3 linked regions of the Homo sapiens genome follow. The protein of the gene in region 1 purifies or fractionates together with the protein of each later gene. This does not show direct contact. Each region holds a gene or a part of one and is shown in the gene's direction. Other genes may lie near its edges.

Evidence for each region.
Region 2: the proteins of MMP26 (region 1) and GDF11 purify together in Homo sapiens (affinity purification with mass spectrometry; one large-scale study listed by BioGRID and IntAct). This does not show direct contact.
Region 3: the proteins of MMP26 (region 1) and CNTNAP3B purify together in Homo sapiens (affinity purification with mass spectrometry; 2 studies listed by BioGRID and IntAct, with this or other methods). This does not show direct contact.

What each region holds. Positions count from the first base shown.
Region 1 is NC_000011.10:4,987,764-4,990,492, forward strand, and holds part of MMP26 (matrix metalloproteinase-26 isoform 1 preproprotein), read left to right. Parts: intron 1-304; 5' UTR 305-448; coding exon 449-547; intron 548-1,355; exon of another isoform or gene 1,356-1,582; intron 1,583-1,884; coding exon 1,885-2,105; intron 2,106-2,729. UniProt on the Homo sapiens protein: May hydrolyze collagen type IV, fibronectin, fibrinogen, beta-casein, type I gelatin and alpha-1 proteinase inhibitor. Is also able to activate progelatinase B.
Region 2 is NC_000012.12:55,745,975-55,749,630, forward strand, and holds part of GDF11 (growth/differentiation factor 11 preproprotein), read left to right. Parts: intron 1-2,611; coding exon 2,612-3,009; intron 3,010-3,527; coding exon 3,528-3,656. UniProt on the Homo sapiens protein: Secreted signal that acts globally to regulate anterior/posterior axial patterning during development. May play critical roles in patterning both mesodermal and neural tissues. It is required for proper vertebral patterning and orofacial development.
Region 3 is NC_000009.12:42,127,214-42,130,969, reverse strand, and holds the start of CNTNAP3B (contactin-associated protein-like 3B precursor), read left to right. Parts: upstream 1-1,543; 5' UTR 1,544-1,875; coding exon 1,876-1,960; intron 1,961-3,756.

The sequences.
Region 1 (2,729 bases):
ACATTATTTATTTCCCTTGATTTTATTCTTTTTTCTCTTTTTAGCTTCTGGAGCAAGATTGAATGTCTCTGACTGGTAATTATTCTATAGATAAAGCTGTAATGAGTTTCGACACACCTCCTGTTTCTTGTTTTCCCCCCTATTTTAAAAAATGATGCCCCCTATATTCTGAGACTGACCTGTATTTCCTTAACCAGGCCTGTGGCCCGGGATGCTGAGGACCATCAGGTGTGAACTGAGCTTAAAAATAAATTCCATGGCTGCTTTTGTCACCCTTGCATGCTGGTCACTCTGCCCTCAGCAGGTATGGATGATGACGCCACTCACAGATTCAAAGAAAGGGCAAACTGGCAGAGTGAGTCATTGGATGTTGCTGGCACAGCTATAAAGATCCAGTGGCCCAAGTTGTGTACCTGAATTCAAGCAGTGGGACAAATGAGGGTTTGGCATGCAGCTCGTCATCTTAAGAGTTACTATCTTCTTGCCCTGGTGTTTCGCCGTTCCAGTGCCCCCTGCTGCAGACCATAAAGGATGGGACTTTGTTGAGGTAGGTGAACGACTCAGGACCACATTATTACATGGTGACCATTGTGGGCTCTTATTTCGTGTGTGTGTGTATGTGTGACTGCATGGTATAATGATAAATACACACATTAATATTACACATGAAAACATTTTATTCTATCTATGTGTTCATTTTTCTCTTCTAATTTTAAGAAAAAAATTAATTTTTTGTAGCCCCTAAAAGTGTTTTTGGGCCCTAGGCACTGTGCCTTCTGTGCCTAATTCAGCCCCATTGCTCATCTCTCACTTTCTTAGTCTTCTATATGGCATAGAGTGAACACTCCAGTATATAGGTCTCTGATCTATATACTGGAGTGAGAGATCAAGGGAAATCATTCAAATAAATTAATGGGACCTTCACATTGACTGAGTAATCTCCCAGTCGGTCTACCACACACTTTCAATTTCTAAAAAAATTATGAATTTGCTCCAAACTTTTAAGCATCCAAAATACCTAAAAAATGTTATAACTGGTTGCAGTCATGTATTTTGTAATTGTATAGGAACCTAGTCAAATTTCCTGCTAATGTTTAGTCCAGAACAATACAATAAGTCATTTGCCTCTTAGTGCCCAGCTCAGCTGATAATAAAACAAAGGCATAAAAATGCAGTCATATAATTTAAAAAAAACAGTCAATAGGTTTACGTCAAGTACTCATAAGAACTGTGGAATAATAGATCAAGCTGTATCAGACATGAGCATTGCCCTTAAAGTATTTTGAGTCCAGCTAGCATTCAAATACAGACAGAGAAAGCCTAATTACAATACAATGTGCTTTTTTTGTATTTAGAAGTTTACATTTAATACACTAGACTGGCAGAAAAATCAGTGGAGACAAGGAATAGGTAAACAACGGGCTCTTTAAAAGTAACTTAATGAAATGGAAGTAAATGCAAATGAAATGGGGAATGCAGAACCAGCCAAATTTTATGTCCTGGAGTGATTGATTGTATCCTGATTAAGAAAACCTCCATCAGTCAGAAAGACCAGAGGCCATCTTCCCCGGGGAATTCCCAGGTAATATCTTCCTGTCGTTTATACTTGGGTTTCTCCATCCTAAAACTTGGAAGCTTTTTCTTTTAAAAAAATGTTATAGTTTATCCATGTTATTTTTATTCTGTCACTTCTCATTCATATCATTTCACTGTGGCATAAAGAATCAGGGATGGCTGCCATCATCTGACTGAGAACAGGAGACTTAGGAAGGCCAGACTAAGTACCGTCCTTCTGAGACCCTCAAAGAAGGCTATGCCCAGGGTAACTGATATATGGGTCTTCCCTATTGACTCTTAGTACTCATCCTTCTTGATCTGATTCAGGGCTATTTCCATCAATTTTTCCTGACCAAGAAGGAGTCGCCACTCCTTACCCAGGAGACACAAACACAGCTCCTGCAACAATTCCATCGGAATGGGACAGACCTACTTGACATGCAGATGCATGCTCTGCTACACCAGCCCCACTGTGGGGTGCCTGATGGGTCCGACACCTCCATCTCGCCAGGAAGATGCAAGTGGAATAAGCACACTCTAACTTACAGGTGCTTGTTACTAAGGCCTAGAGGATAATGTGTGGGGTGATGACCTCAAAGGGCTTTCTACCAGGTCTCTCCTGGAGGTACCTCTACTCTCTTCTGCTTTCATTGGCAGCCCGCTCAAAGCCCAAAATCTCCCTCAGAGAAGGTAATACTACCAGATCCTTTTCTAGCTTCCTCTAACCATCTCTTTAGAAAGTAGAGAGCATAACCACTATCCTTTCCCTTTGTTAAATCTTTTCTTTTTAATTTTAATGCGTGAGTGTGTGGATGGTTCTAAGGTACAATTTTGAAAACTTAATTTCTGCCTAGGTTACTCTTTCTGTTGGGGATTCTAAATATACTTGAGATATCTAAAGCAAGCAGTACTAAATTATGTAGAATGCTATACATTTTAATTTATGTAGAATGCTGTATATTTAATTTAATTTAATTTTGTTCACATTGTTTTATTTACTTATTTTTCCCCAACCACCAGATAGGACTGTCATTCTTAGACTTTAGCTGACCTAAGAATAATTTGGGATATTGTTAAAATTCTTAGAAATCTATATTTGCATGTTTAATTCCTTAAGTTTCTGATTTAATTAGTCTGAAATTAGCTCAACTTTATAAATAACCAAAATGAGT
Region 2 (3,656 bases), on another chromosome or scaffold:
TGTGTTTGGGGGGGTTAGGGTGGGGGGAAGGGGAGGTGGTGTGCAGGGAGGGGGTTGGGCATTTGCTGAAAATAGTGCAGTGACCTCTCTCTCCCACCAGCGCCGCCTACTAAACCTGACCTGCTGCCTGCCACCAGCCCGATCAATTCAACACAGATGTGGCCCCTTTTCCTCCCCATCAGAGCTCGGCATATGTGTGCTGGGTACTCTCTCGAGCCCCGTTTCCCTCTGTGGCTCTACCTGCTTCTCCTTTGTTCCTCAGTCTGTACCCTTTCTATCCTTTCTCTCCTTTACCCCACTAGGTTTAGCTTCCTCCCACCTTTAGCTTTCTAACCATCACCCACTCCTTTCTATCACTGCCTCTGCATCAGGATTCTCAAACTCTCAAACTTATTCTCCCTTTGCCATGATTATCCCCTGCATCTTTCCACTCTAACTTCTATTTCTCTCCCTATATCTACTAATATGCCTTCAACTCTTAACAGTCTCTTCTCTATTATCTCCCTCACCATCTCCAGTCTCTCCCCTGGCTCTTCTCCCTGCTCTTTTCTTTCTCCCTATGTTCTACCTCCTTGTAGCACTGACTGTCCCCTGTCCACTGGGACAAGTATGTGGAACCAAAGACTTAGATGTAGCCCTCATCTTCAAACCCTGGATCAGCTTAGGTAGAGGGAGGGTTATGTTTAGAGCTTAGTAGAGAATGCGAAAATAGTAGTAGCTTCTCAATAAATGTTGGTTTGTTTGTTTCCTATTTTCACATTCTCTAGTTAATGCTCAGCACTCATGTGAAGCAAGAATTATTATTATCTGTATCACACTGAGAAGTTTGGTGAGTAAGGTTAGATAGTGGTTAGTAAGGAATCAGGCAGTGATTAAACCCACTTCAATTATAGCCAAAGAACAGAATTTAGATGCCAGGAAGAACTTTCAGGCACTTGCCTGTATAATTTAAGATTGGGAGTTTAGGGAGTTCATTCACCATGTATTTATTGAGTGCTGTCTAGCACTATGGGAGGCACTGAAGCTACAATGGTGAGCAAAACAGACACAGTATGAATAACAACAGTGTCCACTCTCATGGAGATTAGTACCTAATGGCAAGAAAATAGACAATTCTTATGCTGAAATTTGTAAAGTATGCTATTTGGGATGTTGCTTGTCACTCCCCATCTCACTAGTAGCTTCCCTATCCCAGCTACTTCTGATCTCTGAATTCTCACCCCCCAAACCCTACTCCATTGCACCATCACTGAAGCTCCAGCCAGTAAAATAACTGGACTACCAGGGCCCTGGGACCTCAGAGAATAATCAAGAAAAAAAAAAGCTATAGAGACTTTGGGTATCATATCCTGAATATATGAAGTTCATTAAGCACTTTCTCCTCATCTCCCTTAGAAGGTCCTCTTTCTCCCAGGGTGGGGGTGGGGAAGAGCTGACAGGACACCCTAAGTCCATCCTGATTTTGCAGAACTCAAGACATGGGGAGGATACTTAAAGGCCTAGACTTCCTAACCCTGCTTATATGGCTCTGGAAGCTCATTCCTGATTCTTCCTATCTAGAGTCAGGATAGACATATTCTGTCCAATGGAGACATGTTGTAGGACACTCCCAACTGACTTAGGAAAGGCAGTGAAGAGGAGCTGGAATGGAGGCAGAGGCAGATATTTATTGAGAATCATCTATTAGACCCAAGAAGGATCAATTTAAGGTCCAGAGCAAGGGGAAATGGGTCAAAATGTAAAGTTGGGATGTTCAAACTTTGTAAAGACCTACTGGCACTAGACTGAGAAGTCAAAGGAAGCTCAGGGGAGAAAAAAGGCATTGTAGTTAATCTGGTGTATTTAATATTATTTCTGGTGCTTTAGGCAAATAGGAGGCAACACCATGGAGGTAATTATTCCTTTCCTCAAGAGCTGGGGGCAGTCATGGTGATGATGATGGAGCAGCAGCTGAAGAAACTTCTTAAGAGAGAATGGGGAGACAGATGTATAGGAAGTGCTTGGATAGTTCCATTTTGCTGGGTGTTATTCCTAATGGGAGTGAGGCAAGAAGCCTAGATCTGAATTCTGGTTTACATAATGGGATAAATTTAGCTCATGCTCCCTATCTGGACCCTGGGTTATCCCCTCTCTGAGGCCATCTGTGTTATTTTGTGGGGGAGGGATGTGCCAGGCTCTACCTGTCCAGCAGATAAATCAGAGCAGATAGGGGAAAGGTGATGGAAGGGCAGCAGGTGTGATAAGAGGTATGGCTTCTATAAAGAGCTTCAAAGATTCAGAAAATGTTGGAGCCTTATATGCTGGGAAAAGTTGGACAGTAAGGATGGTGGTGGATGAATAATTTTGCAGGTTATCTGGTAGACAGGAACCTATATATTAGGGCAAATGGATTAGGAAATGGACACAGATCAGTAAGGCCTTATAGGGCCATCATCCTAAAGAGGAAGTGCTGTTTTAGGTACCGGAGACATGGTATAAGATAGGCATGGGAGAAGGGTAAAGAAGAACTGGAAAATCAGGCTGAGAAGTCCAAAATTGCCAGTGCCACCCAGGACTACTGATCCCCTACACAAACACCCTTTGCTGATGCTGTGCCCTTCTCTCTTATCAGCGGACCCAGCAGTACAGACAGATGGCAGCCCTCTCTGCTGCCATTTTCACTTCAGCCCCAAGGTGATGTTCACAAAGGTACTGAAGGCCCAGCTGTGGGTGTACCTACGGCCTGTACCCCGCCCAGCCACAGTCTACCTGCAGATCTTGCGACTAAAACCCCTAACTGGGGAAGGGACCGCAGGGGGAGGGGGCGGAGGCCGGCGTCACATCCGTATCCGCTCACTGAAGATTGAGCTGCACTCACGCTCAGGCCATTGGCAGAGCATCGACTTCAAGCAAGTGCTACACAGCTGGTTCCGCCAGCCACAGAGCAACTGGGGCATCGAGATCAACGCCTTTGATCCCAGTGGCACAGACCTGGCTGTCACCTCCCTGGGGCCGGGAGCCGAGGGGCTGGTGAGCAGGGGGCCTGAGGTGGTGGATATGTGTAACCTGGCCCTGAGGAGATAGGGTTACATTGGAAAAGGTAGACAAGGAATGTGAAGGAGGTTGGGGACCAGCATTACTTCTCTGGGGTCAGCAGCTGATTCTAGAGGAGGAGGTGAGGAGTGGGGTGGCAACTATTACTTCTCAAGGATCCAAATCAGACAACAGCTGAAAACTGGATTTGAAGGTAAAGGTGTCAGTTAATGGAAGAGCTGTGAGAACAAAAAAACTGGCTGTTGAGGCGTTGGGCCAAGGGGCTGACAGGGATCAGGTTGCCAGAAGAGTAAGAATTAGAGATGGTGAGTTGAAGGAGAGCTAGCTAGCTGGCAAGAAAAGTGGGCAAAAGATAAATTCTGGGGGTGGGAGCAATGGAAAAGCTGAGAAGTCAGCAGTCTCTATTCTGATGCCCCTGGCAGGTGGGAAAGGAACAGGGAAGAGGAACTGTTCAGGACCATATCACATTTCTTTCCCCTCTCCCTGACCCTCAGCATCCATTCATGGAGCTTCGAGTCCTAGAGAACACAAAACGTTCCCGGCGGAACCTGGGTCTGGACTGCGACGAGCACTCAAGCGAGTCCCGCTGCTGCCGATATCCCCTCACAGTGGACTTTGAGGCT
Region 3 (3,756 bases), on another chromosome or scaffold:
CCCAAGTTCACTTTTTTTTTTTTTTGTCTTGAGACGGAGTCTGGCTCTGTCGCCAAGCTGGAGTGCAGGGCACAATGTTGGCTTGCTGCAACCTCTGCCTCCCGGGTTCAAGCGATTCTCCTGCCTCAGCCTCCCGAGTAGCTGGGACTACAGGCAGGCACCACCACGCCCGGCTAATTTTTTGTATTTTAATAGAGACGGGGTTTCACCATGTTGGCCAGGATGGGCTCCATCTCCTGACCTCTTGGCCTCCTCAGCCTCCCAAAGTGCTGAGATTACAGGCATGAGCCGCCGCACCTGGCCAAGTTCACATTTTTAAAGACTCCATCTGATGCCTGACAAATTGGTATAATAATAGATTGACATTTGTTGTTTTACTCTAGGTCCAATTTAGAAAATGATTTCCATTTTCTCTCTTTCTGTCTCACTGAAGGCAACTGATCTGTCAATCAAAACTTTAGATTTATAATTTTTTCTGTAATAAAAGACGTGCTATTTACAGAGTTCTTGTGCAAAAGTAGTTTAAGTGAACCCAATTAATAATTCAAGAATGACTTTGTAAGTTTCTTCCTCTATTACATCTGAATTCATTTTACATTTTACATCTATTACATTTGAATTCATTTTAATGAAAAAGCCTTTCAAAGTTGTCTTTCCAAAGGGAAGATTAATACACTATTTCTTAGAGATACCATCTAAAAAAGTTAGTATCTTTCTTTCTTTTTTCTTTTTTGGAAACTCGCGGTGGTGGTAATGTGAGTGAGTTTGTCAATCTTTGCCCCTACTGTGAATTTGAGAAGCAGAGGAAGAGAAAAAGAGAAAGACCCCCCCGCCCCCTGCCTCCCACCTCCCGCCTCCGCCCCTCCCTCTAGCACACAGCAGGTGCGCAAGGAGTGCAGTGTTAGCTGCTGCTGGACTGAGCTCCTCATCCTACACTTGCAGGGGTTGCTCTTTTGGACAGAAAGCTGGAATAAAATGTAAATTTTAGACTTCCACCAAGGCCAGGACTAGGGTGAAGGGACTAACGCACTAGTCTCAGGAGCAACTGTTAAGTAACGCTAATCCTGAATGAATGAAATAGTTTTAAAATTGAATGTAATCGCAAAGAAAAAAAACCCATGATAGACAAAATATTAAAACTTTAAATAAAGGCTTGCACTTGCAGAACCCAGGCTCACCGGCCTCTCCCTGCTCCTGGCCCGGTTTCCCAGCTTGGTTCTCTACAAGTCAGAATTCCTAGCAAAATCAAAGTGTGCGCGCGTCTGCCCGAGTACACGCCGCAGAGTTATTTCTGCCCCATCTTCCCTATTTGAACTCAAACAGGACAGCATTTTCCTGGGTGCAGCCCCTGCGTTGGGTGAACAGCGCAGTGATAAAGCCTGGCGTTCTCCACCTGCAGGCGGAGGCTGACGGCGCGGTCTTTGGCGCGAGTCCGTGCACCGCGGCCGCCCCGCCCCGGTGGGAGAGAGGGACGGAGGAAGCTGCCGGTATAACGGGAGGAGAGCGCCAGGCGGAGCTGGGGCGTCCCTCCCGCTCGCTTCTTGACTCGCGTTGGTGCCGGCCGCCTCCCGCGCCTAGTGTCCGGGACGCGCCTGAACCTGCCGCCTCCGTGCCTGGGGCGGCGCCGCGCGGCCCCCAGGCTCCCGCGGGGCCGACCTCGGAGACGCAGCTGGGGCCGGGCGCGGCTTGGCGGGAGGGTCTGCAGCGCCGAGGGAGGCTGCCAGTGCGTGAGGAAGAGAGCTAGAGACTGGACAGGGGAGACAGAGCAGCGTCGGAGCCGCGCAGGGGACGGGAGTGAGAGCGGGAGTGAGAGCAGGAACGACGCAGAGCGGCCGTCGCCGTGCCCGGGTCTCAGGGCGCCTGGCTGAAGTGAGCATGGCTTCAGTGGCCTGGGCCGTCCTCAAGGTGCTGCTGCTTCTCCCCACTCAGACTTGGAGCCCCGTAGGAGCAGGAAATCCACGTAAGTACAGCAAATGGTTTAAAACTTGCGCTAGGCTGTCTGGAAAACTTTGTATTTTTTTATTATCGGTAATATTTGGAAGTGGAATTGCAGAACATGCTCCTGAACATGAAGAACCTTAAAAAAATATTTGGAATTGCAACCCGAAAAAGACGATTTTGTTTACAATAGACTTTCCTCTTGTGGGGGAGTCTAAGATATACCATGCATGTTTTGACTTTTTAATCGATGTTCTTGAATATTCATTGAGAAAGTGGCCGTTTCTGTAAAACCTGAAAAGAGCATCTTAATAAGAGATTAGCCTGCAAATGCTGTCATTTATTCCTTTTTAGGATTGTAATATTTTGTAGGAATTAAGTCTAACAGGGAAAAAACTGGCAGACATTACATCATACTGCATCAACTTAGATGTTAGCAGCTTACAGTTTTGCCGACCTTGGCAGCTTCAGAGTTAAAATGCTAATTAACTTCCACGCAGTATAGGGACAGAGTGCCTGTAGGCGAAACTAAATTAATAACCTGCCCTAACTACTAAGGGAATAACACTTGAACACCCCTGTCAGGGGCTTCGTTTCTCAGTAGAAAGTTCTTGGTTAAAGACAAAACTCAGCCAGTCATTTAGGTGATCTTGAAAATGATTCCTCTCTGGATGCTAATATTTTACATTATTTAATTTGCCATCGGGTTCCCTGTTTTTTATTTTACTTAATTTGGTAAACACCTAGGAAGCTTTTATTTCTAGAATGGGCTATGATTCTAATATAATGATGATATTCCAGACAGATGAGCAAAACATAATGTACCCATATTTTATCACACATAAAAATGTTTACACAACATTGCACATTTTTTTTTCGGCTTGGAGTAAATCTCTATCAGAGAGTCGTCTTTCTTTCTTGATTAATGAAACCATGAGATTAGAATTTTTAAAATGTCTTCCTCCTCCTTCTCAAATCACTTTTATTTTTCTTTCAGTGGCATCTCCCTGCTGTCAGCCTCAGCCCTCTCCTACCAAAATCTCTTTCGAAATAAGTTCCAATAAATGCTAGTGGCCATGTTTGGAAATTTAGATTATTGCAGGATAACCAAGGGTAGCTTTCAGCAGTTTTCCTAAGCTGTCATGAAAAGTTTGCCGTAGCTCAGTGCTGTTCTGCCTGTGGGCTCAAGGGTGGGTTGTTTCTTCACACACAGGGCACGCACATGGGTTCATGCACTCACTGTGCATCATGATTCAGTTGTGCCTCAGTTAATCCTACACTTGGTGTGCCCTTCGAAAAAACAAGCTCCGGATTGCTTTGGTCAGATGCTGTACCGTGTTTCAGATTCAACTTTAATCTGCTTTTGTGAGAGGGCTTTGTGAATAAAACGTTGTTACTTAAATTAAAATCCTTGGGTCTTGTAATGGAAACTGCCGTTTGGCTTAAATAAACACATAAATGAGTTACTTATAGAAAGGCATGCTAGAGTAATTGACCAATCAACTGGCAAAATACAACAAAATAAGTCACTAGAGGTCACTCTTACTATTGAATAAACAGGGCTTCAAAAAGACCTTCCTGGAGAAAAATGAAATCTGAGATCCTGCCACCACCTTTCCTGTTTTTGTTGCATAGTTGTGATTACTTTTTATTCTCAGGATTAGTTGTATTGATAGTTATTTTGCTTGGAATCCAGTGGAAGGATTACAAAGCCCATAGAAATTAAGCTCTTCTCATTTACAGTGAACATTCTTTTTGGAGGAGGGGAGGGCAGGGACAGATATTCCAAACGGACTCAGCACCAGACGGGACTCTCGC